Homo sapiens: one gene and its partners. The protein of the gene in region 3 interacts with the protein of the main gene of each other region in a pairwise test. Each region holds a gene or a part of one and is shown on either strand. Other genes may lie near its edges.

The links. Proteins that work in one complex are often made in the same cells at the same time.
Region 1: the proteins of ZNF135 (region 3) and LMO4 interact in binary tests that used the Homo sapiens proteins (3 or more experiments, as listed by UniProt).
Region 2: the proteins of ZNF135 (region 3) and WWOX interact in binary tests that used the Homo sapiens proteins (3 or more experiments, as listed by UniProt).

The regions. Positions count from the first base shown.
Region 1 is NC_000001.11:87,331,848-87,338,879, forward strand, and holds part of LMO4 (LIM domain transcription factor LMO4), read left to right. Parts: intron 1-165; 5' UTR 166-168; coding exon 169-404; intron 405-7,032. UniProt on the Homo sapiens protein: Transcription cofactor. Plays a role in establishing motor neuron identity, in concert with MNX1, acting, at least in part, to disrupt LDB1-LHX3 complexes thereby negatively modulating interneuron genes in motor neurons.
Region 2 is NC_000016.10:79,208,622-79,213,167, forward strand, and holds the end of WWOX (WW domain-containing oxidoreductase), read left to right. Parts: exon of another isoform or gene 1-2,986; coding exon 2,987-3,175; 3' UTR 3,176-4,046; downstream 4,047-4,546. UniProt on the Homo sapiens protein: Putative oxidoreductase. Acts as a tumor suppressor and plays a role in apoptosis. Required for normal bone development. May function synergistically with p53/TP53 to control genotoxic stress-induced cell death.
Region 3 is NC_000019.10:58,055,120-58,062,288, reverse strand, and holds the start of ZNF135 (zinc finger protein 135), read right to left. Parts: upstream 2,440-7,169; intron 2,321-2,439; 5' UTR 2,287-2,320; coding exon 2,254-2,286; exon of another isoform or gene 1,891-2,253; intron 710-1,890; coding exon 583-709; intron 1-582. UniProt on the Homo sapiens protein: Plays a role in the regulation of cell morphology and cytoskeletal organization. May be involved in transcriptional regulation.

The DNA of each region.
Region 1 (7,032 bases), on a different chromosome or scaffold from region 3:
TCTTCCCTCTCCCCCTCAGCCTCCTTCCCGCCCTTGCCCTGCTGTTTCCTTCCAGCAGCTCCGCGGGGAGGAGGGGAATGGGCTTGCTCTCTCTCCGGCGATTACTAACTTTTGCATCGCCCCTGTTTTGTCTTTCTCTCCCTGTCCCCTTCCCGCCCTCTGCAGACCATGGTGAATCCGGGCAGCAGCTCGCAGCCGCCCCCGGTGACGGCCGGCTCCCTCTCCTGGAAGCGGTGCGCAGGCTGCGGGGGCAAGATTGCGGACCGCTTTCTGCTCTATGCCATGGACAGCTATTGGCACAGCCGGTGCCTCAAGTGCTCCTGCTGCCAGGCGCAGCTGGGCGACATCGGCACGTCCTGTTACACCAAAAGTGGCATGATCCTTTGCAGAAATGACTACATTAGGTAAGACTTTGCTGTCTTTCCTGGAGATGGGGGGAAGAGCAATGGCAAGGCCAAAGGTTAACAGGGTTGTGAGGAAAGGAGTAGGCGTCTACGGGGAGTATGCAGCCTTCACCTCAAAAATCTTCTAGTTGGCGGAATTTAAGGGGTTCAGGAAGCATGTGTTAGTCTTCCAATATCTGATGGCAAATTCATGGCAAATGCCATACTAAGTAAAGACCATCTGGTGGGACTGGGTCATTAGATGTGCAAAGGTTGAGCACCCTCTGGTCCTAGAGTTTAAGTAAGTGGTCAGCCTCTACTGGACTTCAGGCTAAAAGCAAACATCCCAAGCGGGAGTTAAGCTGCGTTCTTAAAACAAGGTAGGAACTCACAGAGGAACCCAGAAACAAAGGTTGACTTAAAAATACAAGTGTAGTTAGTGAGAAATGATTTGTCTATGGCGATGGCTTATTAACGATATTTACATAAGCATCTTGAAACTTTTTTGAGCGGAAGGCTGTGATTCGTTCTTTGTGCTCCTTGAGAAAAATGCTAATTATCCATCAGTTTAAAGACTTGTAATTCTTCTTATAGAGAAAAAAAAAGTCCCAAGAAATAAAACCTGGTGGTAATGTTTCTCTTCATACTGTTACTCGGAGGCTTGCAATAATTCAGTTAGTGTGTGGTTTGCGATGTAGAATTTGCAGTTTTTTTCAATTGAAGCATGTTCAGGTTTTGGGTTTTTTGTTGTCGTTTGTATCACTGCCCTTGATCCCCAAAAGAGATTTAGAAAAAGGCTATAGAATTATACTAATCTTGCATTTTAAAGCAATGTATAGGAACATTCATATGTCCATGTAAGCAGTCTTTTCCAACAAGTTGCAGTGCAATTAATGGAAAGAATTCAGGAGGTCAGGTGCCTATAGGATCTTTTCAGGTGAACTCAAGCTACTTAAACTCATTAATTTGAAAGGAGGCATTTGAAGGATTACACATTTAATTTGAGTAAATGGTTTGATAGACTGATGCACATGAATGCTTCTAGGAGGTGTTCTGTTTCAACATCCAGTAATTAAAAAAAAAACCCACACGCACACAGTTGATACTAGAAAACCGCACACTTTTAAGAATTTCATCCTATGTAAATTTGTCCTAAACCTTTTTCTTTAAAGTGATTAGTAGAAAATTTTTTTCTTTCTTCAGTGTGGGTAAATCAGTGGATGAACTATTTTGTTCAAAGTTTAGCTCCATTGTGATTCGCCTTATCCTGCGACTAACATTGTAAAAGATCCCAGTGCAGTTCCGAGCTGAGTGTGGATATGTTTACCCCAGTGATATCATTAGTGTAAGATGATGGAGTAAAATGACATTTAGTTATTTTGATAATGCAACCTGTGTCGATTCTGCTGGCATCCTCAATCAGTCCAAGTAAAAGAAATACAGGAAGGGAGAGGGCTTTTATTTTTAAATTAAGATGGCAGCATTAATTTCACTAAGTGTTCTTTTAGAAGTAAATGTTGGAAAATCAGCAGGAACATGGGTGTAATGCTTTCTGGTCCTCCTTCCAAGTAATGCCATGAGCTTTGACGGTGCTGTAATTAAATAGAAAGCAAAACTGTGGTAAGAAAGGAGTGTGGTTTGAAGTGGAAAAATTGACAGTGCTGTTAAGATTCCGTGAATGGTACAGATTCATCTCTTCTCCGAGTGCCTTCAAAAAAAAAAAAACAAAAAACAAAAAAAACCCTCGCTTCTGATTACAACTAATTAAAAAGAAGATGGGTCCGCTTGTATTCCCCCAGGACAAGTTTAGGCAAGTGGCTTCCTGGGAATTGTGTCCATTCTTTTCTCTATTCTTGGGGCCAAATGTAAATGGCCTTTTGGTGTTTTCCTGTGCCCTAATGGAGCAATGGAGGATGTGTGCCCAGCCCTGAGCCTTAATTAATGGCATCTACGTTCTTACTTCCTTTTTTCCCTCTGAATCTGGAAACTGGAGCCAGGCTCGCTCTTGAACTACATGCTACCCCGAGGACCTTAGATCTTTCTAGGAGAGATGAGTTCTAGCTCAGTACGAAATTGATGGCCTCACACTTAGCTCAGGGCTCACCAGCAGCTGAGCGCCCCTTCCCCTCCAATTTAAGAGATTACTGAAGTCTTCCTTCAGTGTTCCTCTCTCAGCCCATCAGGATGTCCAAAGGGTGGGAAGGTGCAGACGTTGCTGTTCCTCTCAGCTACCCCCTCTCCAATGTCCCTCAAGTCCACTTGTTGGAGGAGCTTTCAATGCCGCAGGGACCGCTGCAGAAGAGTGGAGTAATCTGCTCGCCCGCCGCCAGGTGAAGGGGACCCCTTGGTCCGACTGAGACCACATAGCGATTTACTGAGGGGCTTTTAAACTGTCTTGACTTTGAGTTGTGGTTTTTTGAAAACAACCAAGGTCTTGCTAAAAAGCTGCGGGAGAGCTGGGAAAGGCCGGCCTGAGCGCGGGGGAGGGGGCTGCAAGATGAGGGGGCGCTTTCACCAGTCCCCTCCCCCTCCGCGGCCAAGTGTCGATGGGCAGAGCTGGGCTTCTGCCTCCTCTCCCTCCAAGATTTCAGATAAAGCGGCTGCCTTGCTGCAGCGAATCCGCACAATTAAAAGCTTTAATTAGTGGCTCCTCCATTTTCTTAGTTCTGATGGGCTTTATCTAATGAGATCTGGTCTCTGGCTTAGATCTGCTCCGAATGACGTGTCCGCAATGAATGAGAGCTGCGTCGCAAACAAAACATTTAATTAACAAAATTGGCCTCTAAGAGAGGGAGGGAAAGAATGAAGGGGGGGGGGTTGTAGAGCGGAGGGGGAGGGTGGATCTTAAAGGGACCAACGCCTGCCTGGCCCCCCCATCTTACAAAAATAGGGGAACCTTGGGACTGCCCCTTCCCCCACCCCCGGCTCCCGACCCCTCAGCTCCACCCAAGCGCCCCAAGTAGCTTCGGAAACTCCGTTTCTCTTCCTCGAACCGTCTTTCCTCCACCCCCACCTCGGGCCCGAAGACTGGCGCGGAAAGTGCAGCGAGAGGAGGAAGTTCGGAGACCGGCGGGTGGGGCTCCAGGTCCGGGGAGGGCGAGGAAACGCGCCGGAAGCCAGGGTGGCGGTCGTCGGCTGGCCCTCGCTCCCTAGGCGGCCAGCACCCGGGCCGGCGCCGCCCGAGGCCGCAGCCAGAGCGCCCAGCCGGCGGGCGGTCTCGGGCCCACGAGGGGGCGAGCGCAGGGCGGGAGCCGGGCGAGCGGGTCGCGCTTTCTTTCCCCGGGCTCCACTCGGGCGGTTCACGTGGCGCCCGCAGCCGCAGTGAGCCCGGCGCGGCCGGGGGTGGGGGCCTGGGGCGAGGGTGGGGAGAATTGGTAGTTGGTGGTGGAGGGTGTGTTTGGGTAGGGGGTGGCGTTAGGAATGGAGGCGCCGCCAGACAGCGAGTTCATTTCCCTGGTAATCAACAGCAAGCTGCTATATTCAGAGAATGCTGTCCCTTTAATTGAACAGGCTAGGTAATTAAATGGCACTTTTCCAATAGGACGTGCTAGGTAAATCTAATAGTTGGTTATTTAATATCACTTTGAAGTCTGCCCACTCAAGCACAATGACAGCACAGGAGCATGTGAACTATTAGCTAGAAAAAAAAAAAAAACAGGATCTCAAAAATTAATTAAATCGCATGCAATTTAGGGGGAACGTTTATCTTGATTTGTCATAACAGAATTAATTCAAGGCCTCCAATTCACTTGGGGGCAGATCTGTTACTCTGAATTAACCAAGCGTAATTTGGCTGATTTTTTTTTTCCTATTATGCACAGCCCCCCTCTTAAGTATCAATAGCTTCTGGTGCTTTTAAGGTGCCTGGTCTCTAGTTTTTCCGAAGTACCTTTAATGGACTTGGCTCCAGGCATAATTTCTGGGTTGCATTTCTTTGTTACATTTAATATAGCTGGTGCAGAATTTAGATTAAATATAGGAACCTGCTGGAAAACCAATTGCTTCTGGATCAGTAGCTGTGGATGTGCTTTTTTCTCCTCAGATAGGTTGCTGATATTTACTTGCAGGTACAAATGTATATACCTTTCAGCCACACTCTCAGAAACGTACCTCTCCTTGCCCAAAAGCAGTTTAGAAAACACAGCCAGGTAGCGTTTCATATTGCATGTATTTTGCTTGAAGTAATAATGCAGTTGAAAATAAGCCCACCTATTGGTCATTGAAGTTACTGAAAGATGCTAAGCATTGATAGTAAACTAAAAATACGATTTGCCCTCCATCTCTTAATGCCAGCAAGGAGAGCTGGAGCTCAGCGGGCAAACAGGAATAAAACTACATGGTGTTGTTCAAACAGGAGCAAAGCACCTTTAAAGTGCAGTGGTTTGGTGGGATTTCTTCCCATCTTTTCCGTTTTCCCTGTATAAGGAACCTCTTGATGTTTGTGATTGATTGCATTGCCCAAATGCTGAAATATTAACGACCTTCTTGGACTGAGGACCCAAAGAAAGGAAACTGAAACCGATTCTGTCATCACAATTAAAGACTCCCCTGGCTTTAATTAGCCTGACCTGGGGTATATCTCCCCGTTGCTTGAGTTAAAGAGAAAAGAGCCCATTATAGTCCAGTCTGAGACCGATAGCTACTTAATTGAGCACCTAAAGCCTCGAGCCTTTTAAATCAAACACTGTCCGGACAGTCCCCCTGGTTAGATAATTAACTCTCCAGCGCACAGAAACGTTGTGAAAAAACACACACACACACGCACACACAACTTTTCAGAAAAAGGGTGGAATTCTAATGGTAGCCTTCCTCTCTGGTAAAAGGGGATTAGAATGTGTATAGACACGTAAGTTATTCTGCTCTGAGGCAGCCTTAAAGCTGTAGGCATGGAAAGATCTTAAACTCCATTGATACGTTGTTCAATAGCACATCAGTCCTGGGTAGATCTTGGTCATTTCAAACTTTGTAACTGTAATTTTTGGCACTTCAGGAATCCCACCATTTTGTGGCTGATTGTTCTCTGAAAGGTTATGATAGCAGCCCTGGAAAAAAATAAGATCTATGAAAGGCTTTTGGATTACATATGAACTGCCCTGATTATTAAAATACACTTCGATGTTGAAGACTTACAACTGACTTTACTCAGGGTGAATTGTTAAATAAATGAACACTTAGGCTGAGTAATCAGATGGGTACTGTGAAAAGGGTATTTTTGAGATGGAGTGTCACTGTGTACCTGTTGGTAGTGGCAACCATAATTATAGATTCTTATCCATTAAAATACTTCAGGGTTGCTGTAAGAGGATATTTGTTCTTTAGCCTTGTTAGGATTCTGTCACCCCCTTCTACCCCCATTACCTGTCTTCTCTTATCCTCAGCATGTATTTGGCCACATGGACTGGTTTTTAACTTTATTTTTACCCAAATTGTTTGAATTTGGTATCCCTTTTGGGGGTTGGAATAGCACTACTGCCGTCCATAAATGCTTTCCTCAGGGCCATGCCCATTCTCTGGCTACCTTCCCCTTCTGAGAACTCCCCTGCGGCAGTGGTACTGCAGGTGAGACACCGGGAGGTCCTCATCAGTGTTCCTGAAGTGTCCAGCATTAGGAGACAGCAGCCCAGAGGCCCCCCAAGCTCCCACATGGTGTGGTCCTGCAGCTAGAGGTCCTGACAGTGTATTATTTCAGCTTTCTTTCTGTAACTGTTCTGATTCTGCAAGAACGTGTCAATGTGTCGTGGATCTCAGACTAATTAGTTTTGAAATGGAGTTTTGATTGAACTCTTCAAATCGATGCTGCTGCAAAATTTGTTTCTCGGGCTTCCTATTAAAAGCCATCTTAAGGGGCAGTTTTACTACTCTCCCTGTCGTTCAGTCAATACATTTAATAACAACTTACAGGCTATTTTCAATAAAGTGGCGACAGCAAATTAGTAGTTTGAACATGACAAGCCTCTTCTGCAAGACCAGATTCTGAAAACTCAAAGCAATTATTTTTATATAGAGGCATGCTGCAATCATTCAGATTATGGGGTGTTCTATAGGAATATGTCTCCTGGTTTGACACAGACTGCATTTTATGACTTTATTTGGACAAGGAGGAAATGCAAATGTTAATATTTATTATGACACCAATATGTTAATTTGTAAGTCCTCTTACTTTGTTTTTCGTTTTTGAAAACTACCTCTCTGATTCTGCTTACTTGTTCCGACACCACCTTTCAATGTGAAATCATTTTGGTCTGTTTAATAAATATTTGTGGATATTAAAGAGGGAAGCCCAAAAGCAAATAAAGCTTCCCAGGTTGAGTCTACAGATTGCATAAAAGCCCAAGTTCGGTGGTTATTAAAATATTTTGTTGTGCTTGCAGAAGGATGTAAGGAATTATGTATATGTTTTTCTTCAGTACACCACAATTCCTTGAGCTTTCCCCTCCTCTGCAGCCTTTTCCTTCTCCCCCTCCTCCCCCCATGGCAGATGTTGTGGTCTCATTTGATTGCATAGGAAAACTGCAGTGATACAGCAAACACCCAGAGAGATATGATGACAAATGGGTCCAGATCCCGGTAAATTACTTTCTGCTCAAATCGAAATTTCATTCAGTTTGTTGCTAGCAGAGATGAAGTAATCTAAATTGTGGACTCAGGA
Region 2 (4,546 bases), on a different chromosome or scaffold from region 3:
GCTCTTTAAATTTTTTTTTTAATCAGTTTAAGAATGCTTTCTCTTTTATTGGCAGTACCTGCTTGTTTACTATTGAGATTTCACTAATGTGCCTCAGTCTTATTCTGATGATATGTAGGCCGAAAAGCTGGTGAGCCAAAAATGAGAACCTGTTACTAAACTGTCATCACATCTGATCATATTAAGATGTCACTCAGAGGTTGCCATTGGTACGGCTGAAAATTCTCCAAGAGACCAAAGGTGTGGTGTGTATGGGACCAACAAGATATTGTTACTGCTTAATTGTCCAGCAAGGGAGGAAAGTAGAGTGAGTACCCATGAGCACCAAGCATGAATCTGAGAAGGAGAATTTGCCAAAGGTGGACGATTGATTTTTGGAGTAGAGAAGGTCGTCTTTGCTTTCGGGTGCCCCTCCTGTGTACTGTGTTCTACAAAGCCAGAGCCACTTGTGATGGAATTTAGATGGTAAATCACCCCAAGCCTAGTGGCAAAGGAATCAAAGCCATCTCCTGATAAAAAGTTAGGCTTTTCAAAAAGGTATGGCTCTCAGCATTGTAGCCAAATGTAGGTTGGCATGAAATGAAGCCAGTTGTAATTGCCTTTAGATTCCGTGGAAGGAAAAGGTAGGTCCCCAGCTCCTGCAACAATGGCATTCTGAATCAATGGGACTGCAGAATTTCTTAGCAAAAATACCATTCCAGTAATGCAAGAGTGCAACGTGGTATCATTACAGTAGGTCATAGTGGCAAAATATTTTATCAGGTTAGGAAGAATTCTGCTTTTTGCTTTCCCAAACGGACTGCTTTGGTCTTTCCTCACGCTTGGCAGAACAGTGAAAGGCCAGTCTGTCATGACGTTTGAATGCTGAATAGTATAACCATTGTGGCATAGAGGGCGGGAGGCTGGACTTGAAATGGGTGAGCTGGATTCTCCCACCACTCGGGAGTTAATGGCAAGTCACTTGGCCACTCTGGTCGTTTTGGCAGCTGCAAGGTAAAATGAAAATATATGACAGATATCTGGAAGTTGATACAAAACACCATCTCCACCAGAACTCTAAGATTCCAGGCCAAAATAATACTTGGCTTGAGTTAGCTGGATGAGCATCTCAATTCTCCAATTTGTCTTTAGAGGCACTTCTGCTTCCCTTTTCCCCACATGGGATGCAGAAGAGCCAGATAAACCCCTTGAAGTTGTTTAGATAAATGTGCCAGGTGCTAAGCTCAGGGTTATTAGGAATAATAATTCAGTGAAAGGAAATTTGGATGACATGAACTCATTTCCATTAGACTTGAGCCACACAAATCAATGGGAAAAGAAACAGCTGAATCCAGGATAATATCTGGCTATTTGGAGTGGGCATGATAATGGAGGGAGATTGGGGAGGTAACAAACCAGCTACTATTAAGTTCAAGTCATGTCAGTTATTCAAATTCAGGACCAGTGGAACTTGTCCAGTATCATCAAGCAGCCAGTTATTATCAAAACCCAAGTCTTTGTCTCACTCACGGTCCACACCCCGCCCAGAGTCGTATCACTTGACTGCATTTGACCATTCAGTTTTCAGACCAACTCCATTGTTACTAGATATCCTGACACTGAAGAAGCTAAAACCAAACAACAATGACAACAACAAACCCAAGTCTGCCTTATGGCAGATTCTTCACGTCGTAACACCTTCCTTGGGACCCTATTTCTCAGTATGGACCTGACTCTCCCAGGGATCCTAGAATGCAAGCATAGTGATTGCAAACCAGACCATTTGAGGGAAACTCCTCCAGTAAGCACCCTGCATGGTCACAATGTAAACCCTGCAGGGGCAGAAAAATGATAAGCTTTGGGTCGGGTCGGAAAGCCATTTCCCCCACAATCAAAGTTCCTTAGTGTTTTCCTTGTGGGGGCGAGCTTATCTTCAGTTACCTTTTCCGGTCCTCTCTTGCAACCCCTCTCCCTCTCATCAGCTGAAAATTAGTGGATGCAGCTAGGGCTCTGAAACACATAAATAATCATAAGATGCCAGATAAACTGTATTGGTTTTAAATTAGAGACGTGCCGACCATGTCTCCCTCTGAACAGCAGCCTATTATTTTTAATTATGGCTTGCAAAGCAAAGTGATTTCTTGCCCTCTTTATAGCATCCCTGACAGTATTCTGTCAGTTTGGATGATATGATGCCTCATCACTGCACACGTCCCTAGCCACAGCCGCAACTGTTACTCAAAAGGTGAATGAAAGTGATCAGCTGCACTCTTTGCAACTTACATTTTGAAGTGGGCTGGGAGGAAATGTACCCCCTTACCTGTGGTCCCATTGTAAATCTGGGTCAAATATGACATTTAGAAAAAGGTTTTCATGGGATCTGGATGAATTAATGTGTTATGTGTTTGTGCTAAGTATGAATGTATGGTGAGGAGTGTGTGTGTGTGTGTGTGTGTGCATTAAATGTTTTAACACAACATTGCCAACCCTTCCCCTAGCAGCACCGTGGGCAAAGCATAAAGGGATGATCTGGCAGCAGCCCCACTTGGGTTTTCTACCTGATGGACCACAATTAAGAGTGGTTGGTTTGTCAGACAGAAGGTTCTACAAACGATTTGGTATCGAATTACATTATACATGGAGAAGTTGAGGGGTTGGATGAATTTGTTCTTGCACGTTCAGAAGGATACCATCTTTTTCTCTGTGTGGAAGAGGCGCCTGCCACGACGTATTGATATGTGTATTTATTTTCCAAGCCTGTCCCTGTATGAGGTGTCAAAAGTTACACCAGCTTTACAAGCGGAGTTTATGAACTCGTTTTTCCAGGATAGTCACATTATACTTTTTACAGTCATGTGCTTTCAGCCCAGTACCCTTTGCTATGCCAAGATCCAGCTGAAACTGAACCAGGTGGGGGAGGCCTGCTAATGCCCAGGCAGTCGAAATGACGCCATCTCATCACTCCTTTTCTTAAAATTTTTTTTTGTCTTTCTTCTTGGATTTCCAGCAACAGGGAGCTGCCACCACCGTGTACTGTGCTGCTGTCCCAGAACTGGAGGGTCTGGGAGGGATGTACTTCAACAACTGCTGCCGCTGCATGCCCTCACCAGAAGCTCAGAGCGAAGAGACGGCCCGGACCCTGTGGGCGCTCAGCGAGAGGCTGATCCAAGAACGGCTTGGCAGCCAGTCCGGCTAAGTGGAGCTCAGAGCGGATGGGCACACACACCCGCCCTGTGTGTGTCCCCTCACGCAAGTGCCAGGGCTGGGCCCCTTCCAAATGTCCCTCCAACACAGATCCGCAAGAGTAAAGGAAATAAGAGCAGTCACAACAGAGTGAAAAATCTTAAGTACCAATGGGAAGCAGGGAATTCCTGGGGTAAAGTATCACTTTTCTGGGGCTGGGCTAGGCATAGGTCTCTTTGCTTTCTGGTGGTGGCCTGTTTGAAAGTAAAAACCTGCTTGGTGTGTAGGTTCCGTATCTCCCTGGAGAAGCACCAGCAATTCTCTTTCTTTTACTGTTATAGAATAGCCTGAGGTCCCCTCGTCCCATCCAGCTACCACCACGGCCACCACTGCAGCCGGGGGCTGGCCTTCTCCTACTTAGGGAAGAAAAAGCAAGTGTTCACTGCTCCTTGCTGCATTGATCCAGGAGATAATTGTTTCATTCATCCTGACCAAGACTGAGCCAGCTTAGCAACTGCTGGGGAGACAAATCTCAGAACCTTGTCCCAGCCAGTGAGGATGACAGTGACACCCAGAGGGAGTAGAATACGCAGAACTACCAGGTGGCAAAGTACTTGTCATAGACTCCTTTGCTAATGCTATGCAAAAAATTCTTTAGAGATTATAACAAATTTTTCAAATCATTCCTTAGATACCTTGAAAGGCAGGAAGGGAAGCGTATATACTTAAGAATACACAGGATATTTTGGGGGGCAGAGAATAAAACGTTAGTTAATCCCTTTGTCTGTCAATCACAGTCTCAGTTCTCTTGCTTTCACATTGTACTTAAACCTCCTGCTGTGCCTCGCATCCTATGCTTAATAAAAGAACATGCTTGAATATCATCACCTGAAGTTTGTATTGTTTCTTTAAATGTTTGTTTCAGTTTGTTTTTGTTTTTCATTTTTTAGAAAAGAAATCTAGAGGAAAAATAAAGCGCTTCTAATAAAGCGCTTCTCGTAGATGCCAGGAAAACACGATTCTTGTTTCTTCTCTGAGTGAGTTTGTGTTTTGTTTTTGTGCTTTGTGGCTGTCCGTGGGCCAAGTTGTCTCACGCGATTAGCATGCCAGCATATTTTCTGTTAAAGAAAGAAAAAAGAAAAATGACTATTGTTTCATTTCACCTTAAGATGTTTTGTTATTACTTACTTACAGTGAGTTATTTTAGTCCTCAATGGTCTGCTCCCCTGCAATTAGCAAGTACTTAGTGATTAGCGGGTATCTCTATGTTTGAGAATGGGAGCTGTGCAGAAGCTCTTATCTGCGCATCCCATCTCATGGACACCATGATTTCCAGCCCGTTCCAGCAAGCACATGAGAAAGTCCACTCTGGCAAGACGGAGAA
Region 3 (7,169 bases):
AATTCATGAGGGCTCCACTCATGAATGGGATCAGTGCCCTTATAAAAGAAGCTTGAGATAACTCCCTTGCCCTTATGGCATGTCAGGACACAGGAAGAAAGTGCCATCAGTGAGGAGCAAGCCCTCACCAAACACTGAATTTGCTGACACCTTGATCTTAGGCTTCCCAGCCTCCAGAACCATGAGCAACAAATATCTATTGTTTAAAATTACCCAGTCTAAGGTATTTTAGCAGCCCTAACAGACTAAGACAGAAGTGCAGAGGGAGGTGTTGAAGAAGGAGGGGCTCCTAACAGCTCTACAGAACACCCTGGTCTACCCTGGGATTCTGTAGTCTTCAGACCCAGTATGTTTCCCTCACCTCATGTTTCTCTGCTTCTGTTGATTTCAGGTTGAGTCTGAGACTTGCTAATATTGGTCTTAATTGATATTTCCTACATTAAAACAGTCAGGTTCTTAAAGCCCAAGACATACAGCCCCAGGCATTTGCTTTTAAAGCTCAGTCCTATAAATATTTAACCTGGTAGAATCAGAATCCGTGTCAGGGACAGATCAACAGATAGGACATGGGTGTGGCCTTACCCACAGAGACCAGAAGCCTGAAGGTGTCCAGCATTACATCACGGTACAGGGTCCTCTGGGCAGGCTTCAGCTGCCCCCACTCCTCCTGGCTGAAGCCCACTACCACGTCCTCAAACGTCACTTGCTCCTGAAACATCACACGAGTGTCCTCAGCCAAGCCAACCCTGGCACTGGCTGCTGGTGGGGTAGCTGGTAAATGCCAGCCAGGCTGGGTCGGATGGAGTTCCCTTTGGTCTGGGGTTTTGGGTCAGGTTTTTCTGTGGGGCCTGGATGGGTGCCCTGCTGATGAGGTGGAGGATCTTAGAATCTAAGGCATCATGCCCGTTTCCAATAATTTGTCTCTTGAAATAAGAAATGGAGGGAGCCAGCAATAAAGGAGTGGACCAGCCCAGCATGGTGTCGCATGCCCGTGGTCCCAGCTGCTTAACAGGCTGAGGTGGGAGGATCACTTGAGCACGTAAGTTTGAAGCACAGTGAGCCATGATTGCATCACTGCACTTCAGCCTAGGGGATAAACAAAGTTATAAAGCTAGTAGCAGAAGTCTAAAGACTGAATCTGGGTGGTTTTTTTTTTCCCCCGAGACGGAGTCTCGCTTTGTCGCCCAGGCTAGAGTGCAGTGGCATGATCTTGGCTCACTGCAAGCTCCGCCTCCTGGGTTCACGCCATTCTCCTGCCTCAGCCTCTCGAGTAGCTGGGACTACAGGCGCCCGCCACCCCCCCGGCTAATTTTTTTTTGTATTTTTAGTAGAGACGGGGTTTCACCGTGTTCGCCAGGATGGTCTCGATCTCCTGACCTCGTGATCCGCCCACCTCGGCCTCCCAAAGTGCTGGGATTACAGGTGCGAGCCACCGCGCCCGGCCAAATCTGGGTTTGTTTTTTAATTTTTTAGAGACAGGGTTCCACTGTCATTCAGGCTGGAGTGCAGTGGCACATCATGGCTCACTGCAGCCTCCAACTCCTGGGCTCAAGCAATCCTCCCCCATAGCTGGGATTACAGCTACAAGCCATCGCACCAGTCCCCTTGTACGGGTTTTCTGACATTCCTACAGGAGGCTGGTTTCTTCTGGTGGCTTATGGGTGGGGTTAATGTCATCATAAAAAGGCGAGTTCCGCCCCCTTGGCCTCCATGACGTCTGAGGAAGCGGCACTCGATGCGCCATCTTGGAGCGCAGAGCATGCTAAGGCCTTCAACTTCAGACTGCAGAGCCGGGGCACCTACAATTTTCTGACATCACCCAGCCTCAGGTATGCAATGACGGCCGCACAAACATAAAGCCCACTCAGACAGGGACCCGTGCCCGCTGACCTCCAGCGCGGCGTGGGCGGTCCTTTCAGAGGCAGGCTGTGGTTGGGGAGCTTGGCGCGGACTTTAGGAGGCCGGGTGTGCAGGTAGAGGCCGGACACGAGTAGAGGCTAGATGTGCAAATAGAGGCCGGGCACGAGTAGAGGCCGGGCACCAGTAGAGGCCAGGTGCGCGAGTAGAGGCCAGTTGTGCGAGTAGAGGCCGGGCACGAGTAGGGGCCGGGCACGCAAGTAGGGGCCGGGCACAAGGAGGAGGCTGAGCGCGAGTAGGGACGGGGTGCAAAGAGGAGGCCGGGCGTGAGAAGGCCGCGCGCGAGGAGGCCGGGCACGAGGTGGAGGACACGCGCAAGGAGGCCGAGATTCTCACCGGGTCTGTGGAGACGCGCACCCCAGGGGTCATGCCCTGGCTTCTGGCAGGAACGGCTGGCCCTGCTCTGTGGGAAAGGGGAGGTGAGCAGCTGGGGCAGGCAGAGGCGGTGCTCAGGTCCCCAAGCCGGGGAACTGCGCCAGAGCCTGGGGAGCTCCGCGGAGAGCCGTCCAGGGCCCCGCGTACCCGTTTAAGCGCCTGCTGTGTGTGGGGCGGCCCTCCGCTCGGAGAAGGGCAGCCTAGGGTTTTCCCGCCTGTCTGAGGGAAGCTGAAGGCCTGGCGGGTGCGGACACATATCTGCTGCGCAGACTCTGAGCCTTAACGCTACAGTGACAAGGGCCGGGTGGTTGCGGTCCCCTGGCCCTGGGCACTATGCCTCAGTTTCTCTCTTCCATCAACAAAGGTGGCGGCCCAGTGCCCGGTGTGGGGCAGAGGTGGGGCCAGGGGCGGGGCGCGCGTTCCCTCAGGGGCCGTCGGAGCAGCTCCTGTCCAGCTGGGCGTTGGGCCCCGCCCTCCTCTCAGACTAGGGATGCCCCGCAAAGCCTGCCCCCGCCAGCCCCGAAACGGCCTTCCCCAGGCCCCGGGCAGCAAAACGGACTCCACACAGACGCGCGCTGCTGGAAACTCGCCCCGCCAGGGCCTCAGGAAGATCCCCGGACCCCCCGCACCCGGCCCGGCCCGGCCCGGCCTGGCCTCCCCTCCCCCTCCTCGCCGGCCTAGCTCACCCTCCTGACTGCGAGACAAAGGCCGCGGCACCGGCAGCCGACACTGCGCCGGCGCGAGCCTAACTCCATTTCCCAGAGAGCCGCGCGCGCATTTCCGGCCGCCCTCCCCCACCTCGCTCTCGCCCTTGGCGTTCGTGAGCTCTCAGTGCTGCTGGAGCTGGAGTGACTGGGCCTGGTGAAACAGGGCGCGCGGGGTGCCTGGGCATCAACGCGGGATAAGTGCCGCTTGGAACGCCGTGAGCTCCCGGCGCGACCACACGGGCTTTCGTGTTGGAAACTCTACCGTCAGTTTTACTGCTGCAAACAAAGCAATGATTTTTTCAAAACACATACTTTCAACCAAAACATTCACCAAGATCGCACACACGGGAGTCTTTGCATTTTCCACACTGAGGCAGCCATGGAGACTTCACACTGTATTTATTACATGGTTATAAGGAACATCACGTGCAAGACACTAACAATTATGACGACTTTGGACATTGCTAGGTAATTGTCAAAATTGTGCATTTGAACAGCAGCAAAATATTCAAAGCTGGTGTGCCCTCGCTGACACGAAATGAATTGTCATTTTCTGAACATTCACCAAAGCCTGCCAGGCGCTAGGCCTAGGTTCAGCAGCACACAATAGTGAAGCCCCCATTCAAGCGGGCTTCGTTTCACCAGCGTACGTCACACGTCCGTGGAGCAGCGAGACCAGAGGAGCTGGGAAAGCCAGGGCTGAGCCTTGTGCTTTTGCCCTTTTAAGGGAGGACAGATTAATTCCAATCAGCCTGGGCTTGGGAGCTGTATTTGAAGCAGAGGAAAAGTTTTAAGACGGGCATTTTTTTTTCTTTGACTGAAACAACTCTGAAAACAGCAGAGAACACAATACGAATTCTCGTACCACACACAGACACTTGCAAAGATTTGGCTGGTTAACACACAAGTTAAGACTTTAAATTTCATAAGCCCTAAAACAGTGGCAATTATGAAGAGATATAATGGCTCAAAATCATAATGCACTGATGTAAACAAAGCAAAGGCAAGCTTCTTGGCTTTTAAGGGCGTCCTGTACATTCCAAGTACTGTAAAGCCCCACATTTGTGACCGTCGCACTGAAAGCCAGCCTGCTTTTCACTCTACAGCAGTAAAGAGGCTTTCCATTATACATAAAATGCCGTTTTTCAGTTCTCGAACTCACAAACCCAAATGCCACAAAACATCTTTTTGTGTATTTTTTCTTTCACAAAATGTATACTCTTGCCCCCCACCCCCACCCCCAACCGTTTCCTTTTACTGGATCAAAAGGTATGAACACACAACTCATGGTGAAGTCTTTTTCCCAAGCGGTCTGATAGTCCTGGTGAGAAGCTGTCAGTGGTGCCACACTGAGCCTGCTCAGCCCTGATGGTGGCCAGGCGGCCCTGCCCAGCTCCCTCAAACTTGCCCCTCTGTTTCCTCCCTCAGACCTTCTGATCCTCTGTTTTTCTCAGCCAGGTTTCTAAACCGTACATGCTTTTGCAGGGGCGGGCTCTTTCTACAGGGGCAAGTGCTGCTTGGCTCCAGCCAAGTGGGGTCGTGCGGACTGGCAAGCCCAGCGTCCCAGGTCTGGATTTCTCTAAAGAACCCAGAGATCAGGATTTCTATGTGAAATCTCTTGATTTTTAAAAGCTGGTAGGGATTTCAAAGGCTTTAATAACACTCTACCAGTCAAATAAGATGAGCTGGAGGCTACTCCAGTGCCACCCTTGCTGTGGTCTGAACCTCCTGCTGTCTCTTGTAACCACTGGCTGGGCCCCTCTCAGCTCCTTCTTGGCTTCCTGTACGAATCTCCAAGCAGAGCATTGCTGGTTGCCTCTCTGTGGCCTGGAACAGGACCCCCCACCATGAGCAGGTGGGCTGCACATCAGTACAGCTTCCAAGCAATCCTGCAATCACAGCATGGATAGCAGAACTGTGTCATGCTGTATGTTAATGTTCAAAAAGTTAATCTGTTCAACACATACATTTAAAATATACTGTAACAGTTACAGCTCCCTGGACATATTTCTCCCTTTAAAAAAAAAATCTTTTTGACAGCTTCAAAACCTGGCAGTGTCCAGGCCTCCTCTGACCCAAGAGACCCTGGCTGCCAGGGAGAAAGGTGGCGTCTGAGACTCCGGTCTTCCAGAGCGTGAAGTGCCCAGGGCTGGGCTCACAGCTCCTGTGACAAGGGCTGGAGGACAGGAGACTGGGGCACATCGTGATGGGGGTGTTGGAGTCTTTGGGGGGTGCTGGCAGAGGAAGGCACAGGGCAAGGGAGGCGTGCTGAGGTGCTGGGGCTTCCACAGCTGGGGTGAACCCAAAGAGAAGAGAGGGGCTAGTGCTCTGTCTCACTGCAGCTCGGGCAGGGGCTTGGGACTGGGCAAGTTAGGTGAAGAACACCACGTGGTGGCTTTCGTGAGTTGCAGCAGCTGCCACAACTGGTCCAGCACCCTGGGCCAAGTCCTTGCTTCTGTCAGCCAAGGTGTAGCACGTGAGAGTGGCCCTCCAGGACCCTGGGCCACGTCCTTGCTTCTGTCAGCCAAGGTGGAGCACACAAGAGTGGCCCTCCAGGATCCTGGGCCACGTCCTTGCTTCCGTCAGCCAAGGTGGAGCACACAAGAGTGGCCCTCCAGGACCCTGGGCCACGTCCTTGCTTCTGTCAGCCAAGGTGGCGCACACAGGAGTGGCCCTCCAGGATCCTGGGCCACGTCCTTGCTTCCGTCAGCCAAGGTGGAGCGCATTGAGAGTGGCCCTCAAGGGGTGGCCCACCTCCCCTCAGAGGTCGAGGGAGGCTTCCCCGGCTGGAAACTGCAGCCCACAATGGTGTCCCGGTGTCTCCACAGGGACTTCCCCTCACTCATTGAGTCACTCATCCCTTCACTCTGTAGGACCTGTTGTATGCTGGGTGTGGTCAAGTATGGCAGTGGAGACTGTTCTAGGCACAGGAGGAGGCCAGGGTGAGAGGCAGTGTGGAGTCAGGTGGAGACACAGTGAGTTAAGGACACCAGCCTCCACCATCCCAGTGCTGGGGGCTGTGGAGGCAGCAGGGCCACAAAGGACACTATAGAGCTACCCTGCTGGGCTTTGTCTTTTCAGTGTCTGCATTTTAGAGGGACCCTGTTGGCTGCAGGATGGGGATGGGGCAGAGGGAACGGGCTGGAGGCAGAGTTTGCTTAGAGGCAGCTGCAGGCATTCAAGAAATGGGGAGAGAGCCTGGGGCTGATGGTGCAGAGGAGAAAAGAGAACTGAGAGGGATTGGGAGCTGGGTTCCCAGGGCAATCAAAAATCCTTGTGGGGCCTTGGAAGGTGGTGGTCCCTCTGAGGGGAGTGGGAACCCCAGAGGGGAGGCAGTTTGCGTTGTTTTCTTTGTTGTTGTTTTTTGTTTTTGCACAAGGGAAGATGAGTTATTTGGACAAACTCAATTGGAGAACTGAGGGACACCAGATGGATGTCTCTGGGGCCAGCCCAGGTAGGCTGGAGCCTGACTGATGCCTCGTGTTCAATGGCACCCACTTTCTTGTGCAACTCTGGCACCAACAAACTGAGCTGTGATTGTGCCTCCAGCAGGTGGAGACCGAGATGGAAACAGCATGGAATGAGCCCCTGGCTCCCAACAAGTGGGGGCACTCGGGAGAGCTATCTCTACACATCCCGTTGTCTGAGACGATCAATCTGCGCCTGAGAGAAGGCTCAGGGGGGCTTCCGAGAGTAATGGGCTGACTGCGGGGCCAAGACCCCACCCTCCATCCTGAGCTCTGTAGAAGAAGCTCCTCCTTTGCAGGATGAGAGAGAAGGTGCCAGGAGGGGAGCTGGAGCCCACCAGCAATTAAGGCATAGGATAGAGCCAGGAGCCCCCAGTGGGGACTGCAGGGAAAAGCTGGGGATGCCTGAGGGAGCCGGGAAGCAAGGTCCGGAGGCGCGGTTAGGGGGCGCTCCGAGAAGGCAAGCGTGAGAAGGCAAGCGCGGCAGCGAGGATGAAGTGAAGGCAGCGGTGGGTCCGTGGGACCTGCACAGCCCGAGAGGGCCATCGGGGACAGAGGCCGAGAGTGGGGGCAGCTTGGTTGAGAAGCAGCAGCAGGCGGATGTGACGTGGGTAAGTCCAAAGGCTTTTGATTTAGAAGGCGACTTGGAAAAATGTCTCTGCCTGTGCGGATTCACAGTCAGCCCAACACTGTGTTTCCAAGT